Regions from separate parts of the Homo sapiens genome. Here region 1 is linked to region 2. A link means that fine-mapping ties the variant in region 2 to the expression of a gene that starts in the linked region. Tissue or cell type: whole blood. Region 2 holds a variant in brackets; the other region holds the start of a gene. All regions are shown on one strand. Distances are from middle to middle.

Evidence for each region. PIP is the estimated chance that this variant, and not a neighbour inherited with it, causes the effect.
Region 1: it holds the start of SOCS7, and the variant in region 2 is fine-mapped to the expression of SOCS7 in whole blood (TOPMed, PIP above 0.99).

What each region holds. Positions count from the first base shown.
Region 1 is chr17:38,347,840-38,356,017 of GRCh38, forward strand. SOCS7 (suppressor of cytokine signaling 7) reads left to right here and starts at 4,005. Exons shown (of 10, transcript NM_014598.4): 1 at 4,005-5,193. The coding sequence starts at 4,214. LOC124903991 (a long non-coding RNA gene) reads right to left here and starts at 3,157. Exons shown (of 2, transcript XR_007065738.1): 1 at 3,079-3,157; 2 at 2,620-2,886.
Region 2 is chr17:38,396,476-38,404,653 of GRCh38, forward strand. It overlaps SOCS7 (suppressor of cytokine signaling 7), which reads left to right. Exons shown (of 10, transcript NM_014598.4): 10 at 3,038-8,178. Among named protein-coding and RNA genes, the nearest start is that of ARHGAP23, 28 kb to the right of the region's middle. The variant T/C (reference allele first, on the strand shown) is at 4,332.

The DNA.
Region 1 (8,178 bases), 49 kb before region 2:
CATCATGCCCAGGTAAATATATATATATATATATATATTTTTTTTTTGGCGGTGGGAATAGAGATGGGGTTTTGCCTTACTGCCCTGGCTGGTCTCAAACTCCTGGGCTCAAGTGATCCGCCCACTTCAACCTCCCAAAGTGTTGTGATTATAGGCGTGAGCCACTGTGCCCACCTTATTTTCTGTTTTACTTTTTTGAGACAGGGTCTCTCACTCTGTCACCCAGGCAGGGGTGCAGTGGCATGAACACAGCTCACTCCACTTCTGACCCCTGGGCTCAAGTGATTCTCCTGCCTCAGCCTCCTGAGTAGCTGGGATTACAGGTGCACGCCACCACGCCCAACTATTTTTTTTTTATTTTTTGTAGAGACGAGGTCTCACGACATCCTCACAACATTGGGTCTCTTTGTTGCCCAACCTGGTCACAAACTCCCAGGCTAAAGTGATCCGCCTACCTTGGCCTCCCAAAGTGCTGGGATTATAGGCTTGAGCCACCACGCTCGGCTGAGGACCACTTTTATAGTGCTCAGTGAAAGAGGTATATTTAAACATAAAATCAGCTCAATAAACATAAATTTGGCAGGGCGCAGTGGCTCACACCTGTAATCCCAACACTTTGGGAAGCTGAGGCAGGTGGATCAATTGAGGTCAGGAGTTTGAGACCAGCCTGGCCAACATGGCGGAACCCTGTCTCTACTAAAAACAAAAAAATTAGCTGGGCCTGGTGGCATGCGCCGGTAATCTCAGCTACTCAGGAGGCTGAGGCAGGAGAATTGCTTGAACGCAGGAGGCAGAGGTTGCAGTGAGCCGAGATCATACCTATGCACTCCAGCCTGGGAAACAAGAATGAAACTCTGAGGCCGGGCGCCGTGGCTCACGCCTGTAATCCCAGCACTTCGGGAGGCTGAGGCAGGCAGATCAATGAGGTTGGGAGATCGAGATGAGCCTGACCAACATGGAGAAACTCTGTCTCTACTAAAAATACAAAATTAGCTAGGCGTGGTGGCGCATGCCTGTAATCCCAGCTACTTGGGAGGCTGAGGCAGGAGAATCGCTTGAACCTGGCAGGCAGAGGTTGCAGTGAGCCAAGATAGCGCCATTGCACTCCAGCCTGGGCAACAAGAGCAAAATTCCGTCTAAAAAAACAAAACAAAACAAACAAACAAAAACACAAAAGAATGAAATGCTGTCTCAAAACAAACAAACAACCCCCAACACAAATTCAAGTCCTACAAATGCAAAGATACACCCTCTTTGCTTGGAATTTAACTTTCAATGTTTTTTCCAGGATCTGGGCTACGGAAATGGACAATTATGGAAATGGGAAAAGTCTACCCCATGGCTTGCCCTGCCTTAGAAAGAGCTCGCGTGTGTTCCTCTGTACCTCTGTGCACTCCGTGCAAGTAGAGATACTCCAGATAACCCACACAGTCCTCTTCTCCCACGGCCAGGAAAGCAGCTGGACAGCAGAGGGCGATGAAGAGCCAGGGACCTTGCCTGTAATCAGCTTGTAATGGGCTCTGAGGCCAGAGAGTTTCTCAGAGAGAAAGCTGGGGATCTTGGGTAGTCTTCTTAGGCCTCAGGTGTTGTGTGATTCTATAGCAATTTCTCTTCTTTTATTCATTTATCTATATAGAGACACGGTCTTGCTCTGTCACCCAGGCTAGAGTGCAGTGGTGTGATCACAGCTCACTGCAGTCTCCACCTCCTGGGCTCAAGCAATCCTCCTGCCTCAGCCTCCTGAGTAGCTGAGACCACATCTGGGCACACCACCATGCCTGGCTAATTTTAACATTTGTTGTAGAGCCAGAGTGTTGCTATGTTGCCCTGGCTGGCCTTAAACTCCTGGCCTCAAGTGATCCAAGACCTGCCTTGGCCTCCCCAAGCGCTGGAATTACAGACGTGGGTAAACATGCCCCTCTCAATCGCTCTTCTTTTCTTCAGAAACCTGAGTGACACCTGAGAGGCAGCCAGGGGAAGAGAATGAACTATCTGGAGTCAGAGCTGGTTTTGATTTTCACTGCATCCTTTTGAATTGAGTGACTTTAGCTAAATAACTCACTGAGGTTTACTTTGTCTCTTTATGTGTGAGGAAAGATAATTAATTCTGTTGTGCAGAATTTGTCTCAGGAGACTCTTACAGGGCTTAAGGTTGAACAACAATTCCAGGCACTGTCCTTGGCACTGGAGAGTCCCCAAGGGGCAAAAAGCAAACATGGCTTCTGCCCTCATAGAATTTACAGTTTTGTAGGGAGGACAGCTTTTAATCAACTGACCCCACAGACAGATTGCAAATTACACCTGCGCAAGTAAGTGCAACAAAGGAATGATCTCAGAGCCTGGGGAGGAGGAAGGGCCCAGGCAGGGAGATTTCCCTAAGGTAGTGAGGAGTGAGTTCAATCTGAAGGATGAGTAGGAGTTTACTAAGCAAAAAGAGAAAAGTCTTGCAAGAAAAGGGAATAGCTTTTCTTGCCCACATGTATGGGAGCCTGCCGCAAGGTTGATGGGAATGCAGGGAACAGAGAACAAGGTGGAGCTTAGCAGGGGATGTGGCTAGAGAGGCAGGGGTTAGATCACACAGGGGTCAGATCACAAGATCACACATTAGCCTAAGAACAATGGGAAGCCATGAACAATTTTAATCACAGGCTATGAACACATTTCCATTCTGAAAAGGTCCCTCTGGTTGCAGGACTCAACCCTCCACCCTCTTCCCCTCAATGCACCCTCAGGTATTAGAAGTCACTGAGTTCTGCAGCTGATCCTTCCTCCTTTTCCCTTGCATCTCTCAATATCTCCCACTGGGACTATTTCAATGGGCTCCCTGCCTCCAGTCTCACCTCCTCCACACAAAAAGCTTGATCTTATTTGATCCTCACAACATGCCTGCAAGCAAGCAAAATTGCAATCCTTATCCCTGTGTAAAGATAAGAAGGCCGGGCGTGGGCGCGGTGGCTCACGCCTGTAATCCCAGCATTTTGGGAGGCCAAGGCGGGTGGATCACCTGAGGTCAGGAGTTCAAAACTGGCCTGGCCAACATGGTGAAACCCTGTCTCTACTAAGAATACAAAAAATTACCTGGAGCGAGGCAGGAGAATTGCTTGAACCCGGGAGGCAGAGGTTGCAGTGAGCCAAGATAGCGCCATTGCACTCCAGCCTGGGCAATAGAGAAAGATTCCATCTCAACAACAGCAAAAACTTAATGTGTTGTCTGTAGCCGTTACATTATGAATAGCACAAAAATTGAGTAAATATTCTTCCAGTATTTGAAACCGTTTTCTGACTCAGCAAAGAAGTTGCTCCCATCATTGACAATCCAATTAAGTTTTGTCTTTTTCAGTTTTATCAACCAACATTCACCTTTACAATTACACTCCTAGGTCAACTGCAATCACAGTTTGGCTACCCATATAAGAGTTTGGCAAAAATCAATGAAAGCATTCTGTGAGAAAGAGTTATATGGAATTTGCCAATTTACTATTAATTGTAAATTGTGAACTACACATCCTTTATGTCAGTAAAACTTAACGACAAATTTTTGTACCTATATATGTGCATACATTCCCGTTCTCCCCCCAGAGAGCTGGTTGTTACACATTTATCAGTACAGCACTGGGTCTAGAACACGATTCATGTACTGATTCCACAAACATTCACTGGGTGCCAGGCGGACGGAGATACAGATTAATGATGAAATGACTCAGCCAAGGTCACACATCGCAAGCGGCGTAGATGGCAGAACCATATGTGCTCCCAAGGCCAGCGGCGCGCTCCCAGGACCAGACCATGGTTTCCAAGGCCTCTCCACTCTACCGAATGGGATGGCCTGGGCCTGGGCGCCCAGGAAGTGAAAAGCAAGGACCGGGAAAAGAGACCAACGCCAGCCAACAGACAGCTCACCGCCAATAGGGGCCGGGGGCGCGCGCGGCGTCACTCGCCGTGGAGGCCAGCGCGAGCACGCCCTGGGGAAAGTGGCGTGGCTAAGCCCTTCCGGAAGTGACGTCGGCTTGGGGGCGGTGCTCGGCGGTGGCGGAGCGCGGCCTGGGCTCGCGCTGGGCTCCGCGCGCCCCCCGCCCCCCTCTATGAGGCAGAGGCCGCGGCGGCCGTTAGCGCTGTCGCTCCGGGGGCCGCGGCGGGCGGGGCTCCGGCGGGGCCCGGCCTAGTCCCCACCCCAGCCCGGCTCCCAGCCGCCCGCCCTCCCTCCCTCTCCCCGATGCAGGAGGCCGAGCTCCGGGATGGCGAGGCGGCGGCGGCGGCCGCTTCGTACCGCGTCCTGAGCCGCCTCCTTGGCTATGGAGAGGCGGCCCCCGAGCCAGGCCCTCCGCCACCGCCCCCGGGCCATGGCCCCCCGCCGCCACCCTTCCTCGCGCGGCCCGGCCCGCGGGGCTCCCGGCCGCCGCAGCTGATGGTGTTCCGCAACGTGGGTCGGCCGCCGGAGGAGGAGGACGTGGAGGCGGCCCCGGAGCCGGGACCCTCGGAACTGCTGTGTCCCCGGCACCGCTGTGCCCTGGACCCCAAGGCCCTGCCGCCGGGCTTGGCGCTCGAGCGGACCTGGGGCCCGGCGGCTGGACTAGAGGCGCAGTTGGCGGCTCTGGGGCTCGGGCAGCCGGCGGGGCCGGGGGTCAAGACAGTCGGTGGGGGTTGCTGCCCGTGTCCGTGTCCTCCTCAGCCGCCCCCTCCGCAGCCCCAGCCGCCTGCTGCCGCCCCGCAGGCCGGGGAGGACCCCACGGAAACGAGCGACGCGCTGCTGGTCCTGGAGGGCTTGGAATCGGAGGCCGAGAGCCTGGAGACTAACAGCTGCTCGGAAGAGGAGCTCAGCAGCCCGGGTCGCGGAGGAGGAGGGGGCGGCCGGCTTCTGCTGCAGCCCCCAGGCCCTGAATTACCTCCGGTGCCCTTCCCGCTGCAGGACTTGGTCCCTCTGGGGCGCCTGAGTAGAGGGGAGCAGCAGCAGCAGCAGCAGCAGCAACCTCCCCCGCCCCCGCCTCCTCCCGGGCCCCTCCGGCCACTCGCGGGTCCTTCTCGGAAGGGCTCCTTCAAAATCCGCCTCAGTCGCCTCTTTCGCACCAAGAGCTGCAACGGTGGCTCCGGCGGTGGGGATGGGACCGGCAAGAGGCCTTCTGGAGAGCTGGCTGCTTCAGCTGCGAGCCTGACAGACATGGGAGGCTCTGCGGGCCGGGAGCTGGACGCGGGGAGGTGAGACCGGCCGGGGGCTGGCCGACAAACTTCCTTTTCTTGTTTGGTTTCCCTTTTTATCTATTGCTATCGCGATCCTGACAGTTCTTAAGATAGGGTCTTCAGGAGGAGGCAGAGACTTGGGACCAAAGGTGGTAACATCTCGCATAAGGTCAGCGCTAATTGTGGAAACAGCTTTCACTCTTAAAGAGTGCACACTCCGTGACACTTCTCAGCTGGTTTGCATCTGTCTTGTTGGAAGATGGTTTCAGACCATCCTCCCATCCCCATCCTGGCATGGCTTTTTAAGTTTTTCCAAGGCGGCTGTGTGCCATTGTCCCTGGAAGGGAGATTGCTGGAAGTGTTTGGCCTTTGGGGCAAAAAGCTGGTGTTGCACCTTGACCGCCTTGCTTATTCTGTGTACCAGCACCGCACCTCCCTTCACACTCATGCATGCAAATGACAGGAGAATCTTCAAATGCAATTGTAGGCCAGCAATCAATTGGACACCTCTATTCAAAGTTTTACTGTTTTCCTGGTTGTTCCCTTAGATGAACTTGGCATATCAAACTTGGGTGCTGACCACTGTCTCTGAGAATAGAAAATAGCAGACCGGGCACAGTGGCTCACACCTGTAATCCCAGCACTTTGGGAGGCCGAGGAGGGCGGATCACCTGAGCTCAGGAGTTTGAGACCAGCCTGGGCAACATGCGAAACCCCATCTCTACAAAACAAACAAACAAAAAATTAGCCCCCATCTCTACGAAAAAAATACAAAAAATTAGGCGGGAGTGGTCCCAGCTACTCGGGAGGCTGAGGCAGGAGGATCACTTGAGCCCAGGAGGCGGAGGTTGCAGTGAATAGTGATCGTGCCACTGCACTCCAGCTTGCGTGACAGAGTGAGAGCCTGTCTCGAGAAAATAGCTTTGCGCTCTCTCAAAGCCTTTTGAGAATTCTAAGTACCAGTAAGATATAGACAAGGTAGAGACAGGTACATGAGTTCTAGGCCGATTGATGAAAATTCCAAACATAGACGTTGAGTTTTTTTCCTGCATTTCTGAGGGGTGGACTGATCTTCGGCATCCAGTGTTACATCTGTAGCGTTGGTTTACAAAGCTGTCAACTTTGGTGTCAGTGAAATTAGTTACCTTGTAGTAACTGCCATTGTGGTTTGTACTTCTTTGGGTTCTCAGAAAGATTGGAATGGGTTTTGTTGTGGTTTACGTGATGGATTCTTGAGACATACTGGCAGCCATAAACCAAAGCTAAAGAACAGGTATAAATTGATAACCTTACTGTGAACTAAGATCACTTGGGGAGCTTTTTGAAAAGCCTAAGAGTTTGAACTTTTTAAAAGCTCCCCAGTTGATCCTGAACTGGGAACCACTCATCCATAGACTTCTGTTTTCAAGGGAACTTGGGTACTCCAACAAGAAAATGTTGGGTGGATTTGGCTTTCTTGCCCTTTCTGAACAGCTGTGCCATGGGCTTATCTTGGGGATGAGGCCAAATCCAAACTTTCTAAAGAAATCAGTGTGTTGTCCCTTTAGGTAGGCCAGTGTTTCTGCTTTGCCTCCCAGTGAATTCATGCTGGGAGTTCAGATCTTGAAAAGTGGGTGGCTGCTGAAACAGCTTTTTTTGTGGTAGGCTCTGTATTCGATGCTCCACTTACCAGCACAGATGAAATTTTCATCAGATGCAGGGGAGGGCGGGATTAAAGCTATGGGTAATGACATAGGATAGATTGCTAATTTTCTTGTGGTTTGTCTTGCCTTTGTTCCATATTGACCAGGAGTTCGTCTGAGATTCCAGAGACGCCAAATACGAGGTGTGGCGTGAAATTAGCTGCTACGTCTAATAGATTAGGAAGAGGAAAAGGCATATGACATTATACGGTTTTTTGCCTTTGGAAGCAGAATTTAATGGTCATTGGCTGCTCTGTCACCAACCCTCACACTAAGCACAATACAGATTTCTGCTGCAGAGCAAATTGGGCTGTAGCTTTGCAAAGAAGCTTAGTTCAGGGCACTGGAGAATTACATTTTTTGGTCCAAGGGCTTTTTTTGATGAATTGGAGAAGAGCTAGTTATTTGTGTATAAACGTTTGGTTGACTGCTGTTTGGAGGCAGCATGCTGTATAGAGAATGTGAAAGTCTAGATTCCGTGTAAACTCCAACATCAGCTAGGAGATGACCAAATTTGTCACCTTCATGCTTCCCTTTTTCCCCCATCTGTAAAATGGGTGAGCGTTGACTGTCTTGTTCCTGTCCTTATAAGAGTAGATTGTTGAGAAGAGAAATCTAGATGGAATATTTTGTGCTTTTTAGAAGATAAGTAATAGGACTGAGCTGGTAAATTTTTTAATGCTTAGGATTTGGTGCTGCTTGTGAGCTTTTCGACAGCTTACTATGTGCCAGTCTTGCTGGCAGCCTCGCAGCTGTGAGAAACTTGGTGAGTCTGGCCAGGGTAGTTGTGATTTCTGTGGATCTGCACCTCCTAAGTCCGCAATAGTGGGAGGATGAGTTTGGATTTTTAGCTTGTTCTCTTGTTTTGATTGGTAGGACCTGGAAATGGTGAGAAATTTCAGTCTTTTGCCAAAGGGTATATGCCTTTGTCCTCATTGTTGATTGGAGTTAATTATGGGCTTCTATAGTCTTTGCTGTATAATTTGGGGCTTTTGCAGTAACCTCTGGGCATAATTCCCTTTGCTATTCCCAACATCTGCCTTCCTACAATCATTTTAGAAGGTTTAACAATTCCCACATTTTAGCACTAAGCAAAACTTCCTTTTAGTTGCTTTTGAGTCTGGTAAGTGGACCTACCTGGATATATTGTCTTCAGTGTGGTATGAGTTAGCTTAGAGAAGTCTTTTTGTTTTGTTTTTTGTTTTGAGGTGGAGTCTTGCTCTGTCGCCCAGGCTGGAGTGCAGTGGTGCGATCTTGGCTTACTGCAACCTCTGCTTCCCGGGTTCAAGCGATTCTTCTGCTTCAGCCTCCCCAGTAGCTG
Region 2 (8,178 bases):
TCCACCATGTCCCACAGCTTGGAATATGGGGATGAGGAAAAACAGCCCACTCTTCTATTTAGCGTTCCATTTGGGCCATTACAAAGTAAATTGTTGAAACTAAGGAATTCATTTATCTACGAGGCTCTTCTCCCATCATTACACAGTTCTACCCATTTATTTTCCCATAAAACATCTTGCAATACTGGTTTGTGCAGATGAATTCCAATTAGTCTTTTAAATTGCACTAAAGTGAACATTGTGGGGCCAAGTTCCTGAGTAGGGAACACAATTGCCAGGGAGCCATGACTTTGGTGGTGGTGGTGACAAGCAAGATTGACTGCCAGTGTGCAGTGACTGCTTTCTTCTGGTGTGGATCCTGGAGTAGATGTACAGTCTCATCATGTCTTCAATTATATGCAAATTGTATGCCTTTGGAAATGACTAAATATCTAATGTCTTGTGTCTAGGTGGATTTCTCTGCATGATGGCTTTGCAGTTGAGATTAGGGTGAGAGGTAGAGCACTAGGGAGGTCCACCTACCTGACTACCCTTGAAGAGTAATTAGGCCATTCAGTTAGAGGACCACGTCTGTGGGTGCAGTGCTGTAGAAGAACCCATATAAACAGGGAGCATGTTCAGAGAAAGGCCTTGTGGCATTGGAGAGCTCAAACTTCATCATATGGGAATAAATGGCCTAGAAAGAAATGTGATTAACCCAGAGCACGGAGGTTTTAGGGAGGGATAGCTGAAAGATGCATTTGATGGGTTTTCCTAAGGAAGAGAGTGATTAACCTCCTCTCTGTGGTTCCAGTGGGGAGCAAGTTCAGCATTACGCTTATTCTTTGCCACAGGCAACAATCCTGATGTCACAGCAAAAAGAGATCCTGAGAGTTCAGTTCAAACCTTTGCCAGTGCATGACTGCTCCCAACACTCAAGACAAGTGGCTCCCTGCCGGCCTGTTCCTGATCATGCCACACCTTTCCCAGTTGAGGCAGGGCCTTTATACCTCTAGGTCCCCTTGCCCAGAATGCTCTGCCCCAAGGCCCTCCCATGTCACAGCAAAAAGAGACATGGATAAGGACCAAAATGAATGTAAGTTACAAGGAACTAGATTTCAGTCCAACTTTACAAGAACCTTTTTAACAGAGAGGTCCAAAACTGGGATGGTTTTCCTCAAGAGCTTCCATTCAGCAGATAGCTGTATATTTGTGTTTATTTGGCACCCAGTATGAATTGAGAATAGAGTGCTGAGCAAAGCAAAGGCCCTGTTTTCACTCAGCTTCCCTTCTCCTAAGGAAAGACAGGCAGCAAACATGAACATAAATGAATGGGCTAATTTCAGGTGACTGTACAGTGTTGTGAGGAAAGTAAAACTGGGTAAAGTTTAGTGATTAGTGGTGGGATACTCCTCAAGTTTAGATGGTCAGGGAGAGACTTGTGAGGAGGTGCCATTTCAGCCGATACCCAAATATCAAGGAGCCAGCCATGGGAGTGCCTTGGAGCAGAGCATTCTGGGCAAGGGGACCTAGAGGTATAAAGGCCCTGCCTCAGCTGGGAAGGACGTGGCATGATCAGGAACAGGCCAGTGGGTAGCCATTTGTCTTGAGTGTTGGGGGCAGTCATATATTGGCGAAGGTTTGAACTGAACTCCCAGGATCCCTTTTTGCTGTGACATCAGTATTGATGCCTGTGACAAAGAGTAAGCGTAATGCTGAACTTGCTCCTGGTGTAGACCCTAGGAGCCCTGGAAAGGGAGGAAGTAACACTTCCCAAGGGAAAGGTCTTTTTTTTTTTTTTTTTTGAGATGGAGTTTCGCTCTTGTTGCCCGGGCTGGAGTGCAATGGCGTGATCTTGGCTCACTGCAACCTCCATCTCCCGGGTTCAAGCAATTCTCCCACCTCAGCCTCCCAGTGGGAGGCTGGGATTACAGGTGTGCACCACCACGCCTGGCTAATTTTGTATTTTTAGTAGACTGGGTTTCACCACGTTTGTCAGTTGGGTCTCAAACTCCTGACCTCACTCAAGTGATCCACCCACCTTGGCCTCCCAAAGTTCTGGGATTACAGGCATGAGCCACTGTGCCCCATTGGGAAAGGTCTTTAGGGTATGAAATTTGGCCTTTATGACTTCTTGTTGTTCAGGCTGATTTTAATTTGGGAGTTCTGAATGGCCTGCTTGGTCTATGTGTGCTGTTACCTGGGGAATTTCATGCCAGGGGGTTTGGAGTCAGACTATAGAGTAATGGCTAGAACAGTGCCTGTCTCAAGTCGGAAGGTGGAAGCAACAGTGGCCTTTGTGTTTCTGTGTCAACCCTGTCCAGTTGACAGAAGCTGCAGAAATACAGAGCTCTCTGGCCAGGTGTGATGGTTCACGTCTGTAATCCCAGCAGTTTGGGAGGCCAAGGCGGGCTCATCACGAGGTCAGGAGTTTGAGACCAGCCTGGCCAACATGGTGAAACCCTGTCTCTACTAAAAATACAAAATTAGCCAGGCATGGTGGCGCATGCCTGTAATCCCAGCTACTTGGGAGGCTGAGACAGGAGAATCTTGAACCCAGGAAGTGGAGATTGCAGTGAGCCAAGATCATGCCTTTGCACTCCAGCCTGGGTGACAGAGCGAGACTCCGTCTCAAAAAAAAAAAAAAAAAAGAAAGAAAGAAATATAGAGCTCTTTCTTGCCAGGTTCAAAAGGGGTTACTCCAGGGGCTTACTTCCCTTTTCAGTCCCTAGAGCAATTGAGCCTCAGGGAAAAAATGGGTAGGAAATGAAGGGGTAAGGGAAAGGGAAAGAGAGAATTTATGCAATGTGGTAGGATGTATTTATTAGTTATTTCAGGACCTTGTTTTGTCATCCAAGTCATAGGCTGCTCAGGTCCCCCTGACAAAGGCCACTGCTGCATCCCTAGTCACATGTGGCCCTCATGGAAGCGTTCAGCTCTCCAGGCTCCGTTCTCCTTTTGAGGTGTGCTGCTCCACCTCCAGTGGCTGGCTGTTATTTCACTCCATTTTGGTTCTATTCTGTTGAACTGTTTTAATTTTTTTTCCTTTTCTACCTAGGCATTTGGTTGCCAAGCTCCAGCTTTGAAGAACCAAATTAAGCTACCATGAAAAGAAGAGGAAAAGTGAGGGAACAGGAAGGTTGGGATTCTCTGTGCAGAGACTTTGGTTCCCCACGCAGCCCTGGGGCTTGGAAGAAGCACATGACCGTACTCTGCGTGGGGCTCCACCTCACACCCACCCCTGGGCATCTTAGGACTGGAGGGGCTCCTTGGAAAACTGGAAGAAGTCTCAACACTGTTTCTTTTTCAGAAGTTTTGTTTTTGATATTTATATTACTTGGTATGGAAAACTCACCTTGAAGGCAGTTGGGGTTTGTGCCCGTTGGATTGAAAGTGGTGCGAAGGGTGAGCAGGTCCAAAGAAGGGGTGGGAGGAGGGAACAGGGGACGGCCATTCAGCTGGTGCCAAAGGCAGAGTTAGAGTCTGTGCTGTGGGCCTGGAAGATGGGAGGAGGGGCTTGAGGTTTGCAAAGGACTGGGAGTTCCTGAGGAAGGGGGAATCTGCCTCTTGTTGCCATGGGCAGCTGTTGTAGGAGCAGGAGAGAAAGGAGGGTGGGTGGTCTCGAAAAGAATATTGGGCAAAACCTAGCCAATTGGCCTTAGCTGGGAGAAGTAGTGACTCCTGCATCCTTTTTTAAGGTTTAGGAACCTGAGTTCAGAAACACCTCTCATGGAAGCTGTACTAGTTGTGATTTACTTAATTCCTTAAGTTCCATGACCTGAAGTTAACCCCGTTCTTCCTCTGCTCTCAACCCATTGCCCCTTGAGATAACTGTACATGTCACTCTGATCATGGTAACAGCATCCCTATTGCTTCTGCCAGCTGTCATGGCAATCGTGTTTCCCATCACCTGGGCGGTTCAGAGCCAGTCATGGGCTGCTGAATTTAATGGAGCATGTTTCCAGGTTCTTCATGGCAAACTGTACTCATGACTTAGGAGTGAGTGTTACTTCCATGTGCCTGTCAGCTTGTGAGGGGGAATGTGGAGGAAGGTGAGAAATACAGCTCCCACAGTTGTGCTCTTCCTAGAGGAAGCTCTCAGAACGCAGCCCTCACGGGATTTCCTTAGGTCAGAGGAGAGCATCGCATCTCACGTTTTTAGGTTTATCACTGCCATCCCACTTCTGGGATGGGAGGTAGCAAGGGCTTCTGTATTTTCTTGTGTTCATTCTAGCAACCCAGACATTTCCGGATCAGATCCTGCTGGTCTCCACTCACTGGAAAGTCTGCCAGATGCCGATTTGAGAGCTGCCTGTCCCTGCTTTCAGGAGGAGCGGGGAGAAAAACTCCAA[T/C]GGTCTTTAATGGTTTCTGCAGCTGGCCATGGCCAATTCATATGACATTGTGAGTTTGCTTTCTTATAGAGCTGCTCTGGGGAGAGGTTTGCTATTGAGATGTAACAGTGGAGCTGTTGGGTCTTCATGACTCCTTTGCGTGTGTTCCATGGGACTCTCTTTCTGGGTTCCCCATGCTTATAGTTGCCTCGTGTCACAAGACAGATACTAATGTCAGGTTTGTGGCTTCCTGATGGTTTGGGTGGGGCCCCAGTGTCCTGGTAATTTATAGGACTGCCTCATCTGGGAGCATTGCCTTCTTCCTTAGTCCCACGTGGAGTGACCAGTCTTCCTCCTTGTAGCTGAACAGGGAGGAAACTTGCACCATTACCTGACTGTGGAAGGGTGGCCCACAAGATGAGCTGTGCACCATAAACACAGCCCACCTCTGATTTGTCATGTGGTACCTCTTCTTTCCTTGGCTTCCATGGTAGTATTATCAACTAAGCAAGATTGTGATCCCAGAAATTGGCTTAGCATGTGAGTGTTGCCTCGTGAGAGTACAAGTAATATAACTCGCCATCTTGCAGGAAGTGCCACCCCAATATAGAGCCTGAAGTTGGAATCTGTTGAGATCCTTGGGTGGCTGATATACAGCCTGGGATCTTTCTTTTTTTTGTTCCTTTTCAACCACCCATAATTTTAATATTATTTTTTAGTGTGTGTGTGCCTGGCTTTGCGCTAGATATTGTAGAAAACAAAAAAGGTAAAAGACGTAATATGTGGCCTAAGGGAGCTTTTAGGTGACTGCTGCACATCAAGCAGAAAATCAAGGACTATCTAAAGACGTTTATAGTAGATAAGATCAGGGTAGACCAGATGGTCTGGGAAAGTTCTGTGCCTCTGAGGCTTTGGGTTGTAGTCAATGGCAGGACAGACAGTGAGATGAAAAACACATGAGCAAAAGCAAGGAAGCAGAAATCTGCATGGCATGTACTGAACAGTGCACAGCCCTGTTAGAGCAACATGGTTAAAGAATCCTTTCCAGTGCGGTTTTCTAGATGGAAGCTTCCCAGCCACCAGGCAGACCTGAGTGCCAAGGGGTTATGATGGTGAGGTGGAGCCCAAAGCCCAAAGGAGTCAGCAAGGCTCCTGCCCATTGCCAGGGCCTCACTATGGTCAGCTCAGGCCATGTGAGGGAGGCAGAGCCTCTGCACCCCCTGTGTTACTGGGGTTTCTTCTGGAGAACTCATACATTCAGGTACAAAACAAACCAACTGAGGAGGTGTGACCCAACCTCACCACCCACCTTTCTCCTCCTGGGGAGTGTCGTGTTGAACTGTGTCTGTGTCAGTGCACTGGTCCCAGCCCTGGCCGCAGCCTAGTCCTTTCTCTGTGGAGTGGGCTGCAAAACAGCAGCGCAAGAGGAGACAGTCTTCGTCAGGTGTGGGTGTTTGGTGCCTGCATGGGTGGCCTTGCACAGAGCAGTTAGGGGAAGATGAGGGGGAGGCATGGGGCTGGGCCAGCTCTCTGGGATACAGCCTGGTCAGAGAGTAAATGGAGCAGAGGAGCAGGTGTGGCAGCACCTGCCCTTCACCTCCCTGACCAGGCCCGTCCCTCCTTCGCCAGTGCTGTGCAGAGCTCATTTAAATGTATTCCTTTCTAGGTCTGGGCGCGGTGGCTCACGCCTGTAATCCCAGCACTTTGGGAGGCTGAGGTGGGTGGATCATGAGGTCGGGAGTTCAAGACCAGCTTGGCCAAACAGTGAAACCCTATCTCTACTAAAATACAAAAATTAGCTGGGCATGGTGGCATGCGCCTGTAGTCCCAGCTACTTGGGAGGCTGAGACAGGAGAATTGCTTGAACCCAGGAGGCGGAGGTTGCACTGAGCCGAGATTGCGCCACTGCCCTCTAGCCTAGACGACAGAGTGAGACTCCATCTCAAAAAAAATAAATAATTTCTTTCTGGTTGTATTTTCAAGTCACAAATTGGAAAAGGCTTACATCTAGGGACCCACTGTTGATTCCTAAGTTGTGGGTGGGTGATATCAGTGGCCTCAGTGCCTGCATAACCCTCACCTGTTTATGACTGATCTACTGTAACCTTCCTCAGGTTGAGAGTGAGCTGCTGTGAGCCAGTGACAACTACTGCTACAACTTGCTGTTACTTGAAATTCGTGTGCTATGTTGGTAGCACAGGAGTAGGCGGGCGGGGGTTTTGGTGTGGGCACTAGGTAAGTGGGTGGCAACCGGCTCTTTGGGACCATTGGTGCTGACCTTTGCCTGGTCACCTGCCTGTGCCTAGGCCAAGTGAATGTTACATCTTGGAACCTGAGCCATGGAGGTGGCGCCACCTCCCTGAGGAGAAAGGTGTGGCCAAAGGAAACTCCTGCATGGCTCCTGCTCCTTCCCCTTCCCTACATTTCACTTGGGCTAATGATGTAAGCCCCCCTTGAGGTTGGGGATGGTGTGGAGATAGCTGCAGACACCCCTGTAACAGACATCCAGGAAGAATTAGGGAGTGGGGGTAATTATAGTTCCTAGGTCTAGGGGTGAGAGGTGGGAGTAGAACCAGAAGTGCCCTGGAATCCAGCCGTGTCAGCCCTCACCCCAGGGCCCCCAGGAAAGCATGGCCTGCTTGAAGCCCTCTGCTCCCTGCAGAAACTGGGGCGAGGAGGAGCTTTTTCCTTCAGTTAGATCTTTCCCTTCCCTGCTGCCTCGCTCCCTTAGCTTTGGAGCCCTAAAGTTAGTGGACAAGACACTGGGATAAAGCTCTATGGCTGCTGGAAGGAGGTCTGAGTCTGTGTGTGTGCATATGCATGCATGTGTGTGTGTGTGTGTGTCCTCATTTGCAGAAGTCTTGCTACCAGTTAGGGTGTTAAGAGCATCTCCACTGGGCGGAGACCTGGCATTTGTTTTCCACTGTTAAGAGAATGACACACCCCCTGTCATGTAAGGGAGGAGCTATTGAGTTAGACATTTTCCCTATGGGAATCCTCGGTTTGGTTTGTGGGAAAGGAGGGAATGGATAAGTGATTTTTATCTCTAATCGTCAACACAGCTGTTCTTCCACTGAATTTGTGCTATTGCATACATGTAGCCATCTTTCTTTTCACTGCAGCAGTGTTTATCAGTAGTTCAAAATGATTTATTTGCTCCTGGGGAGTAAAACCTTTTTTATTAAAAAAAGAAAAAGAAAAAAAAAAGAAAGAAAAGTGTGCCCCCCTCCTATGCTGCGATAGCTATAAAATGATTGGGTCACAAAGGTCAAGTCTGCACGTCCCTGTGGTAGACCCTGCTTTCACATTGGAGCCTTCACACTCAGCACAAAATGATTGGAGGCCTTGATAAAATGGAGAGCAAAGTCTTGGGAGCAGTGAAATGGGGGTTGGATCATAGAGACAGGCGCTGGGGACTCGGGTACTGCAGTTAGGAAAGTAGCGTTATGAGTTGTACTGAAAATGTTGATTCTCTAATCTGCCAGAAAAGGACCTGTCTTTTCATGCAGATTTCATATTGTCTTTGTCCTTTTCATTGCTTCTTGACCTTCCTGGCAGGTGTCGCTCAGTTTCTTCCTGTTTCCCTTCCTGTCCTCTCCACACCTGCTATCCCGTCCCACTCCCATCTACCTCCCGGGAAGCCAGCCCTGCATGCTGAGTTTGTGACCTGCTTCATTCCCATTTCATTTCTAGAGGGTTTAGAGGTGACCTGGAACCGTTCCCTTTCCCTCTCCTACCCCCTCCTCTGCAACACCAAGAGGCCTGGAGGGGCAGACAGAAAGCAGCCAGCCACGGCGGGAAGACATGCATGTTTGGTTGCAGCTGGACTGCGATCGTAGTTCCTCCTGGAGATAGAGTGTGAGGAACT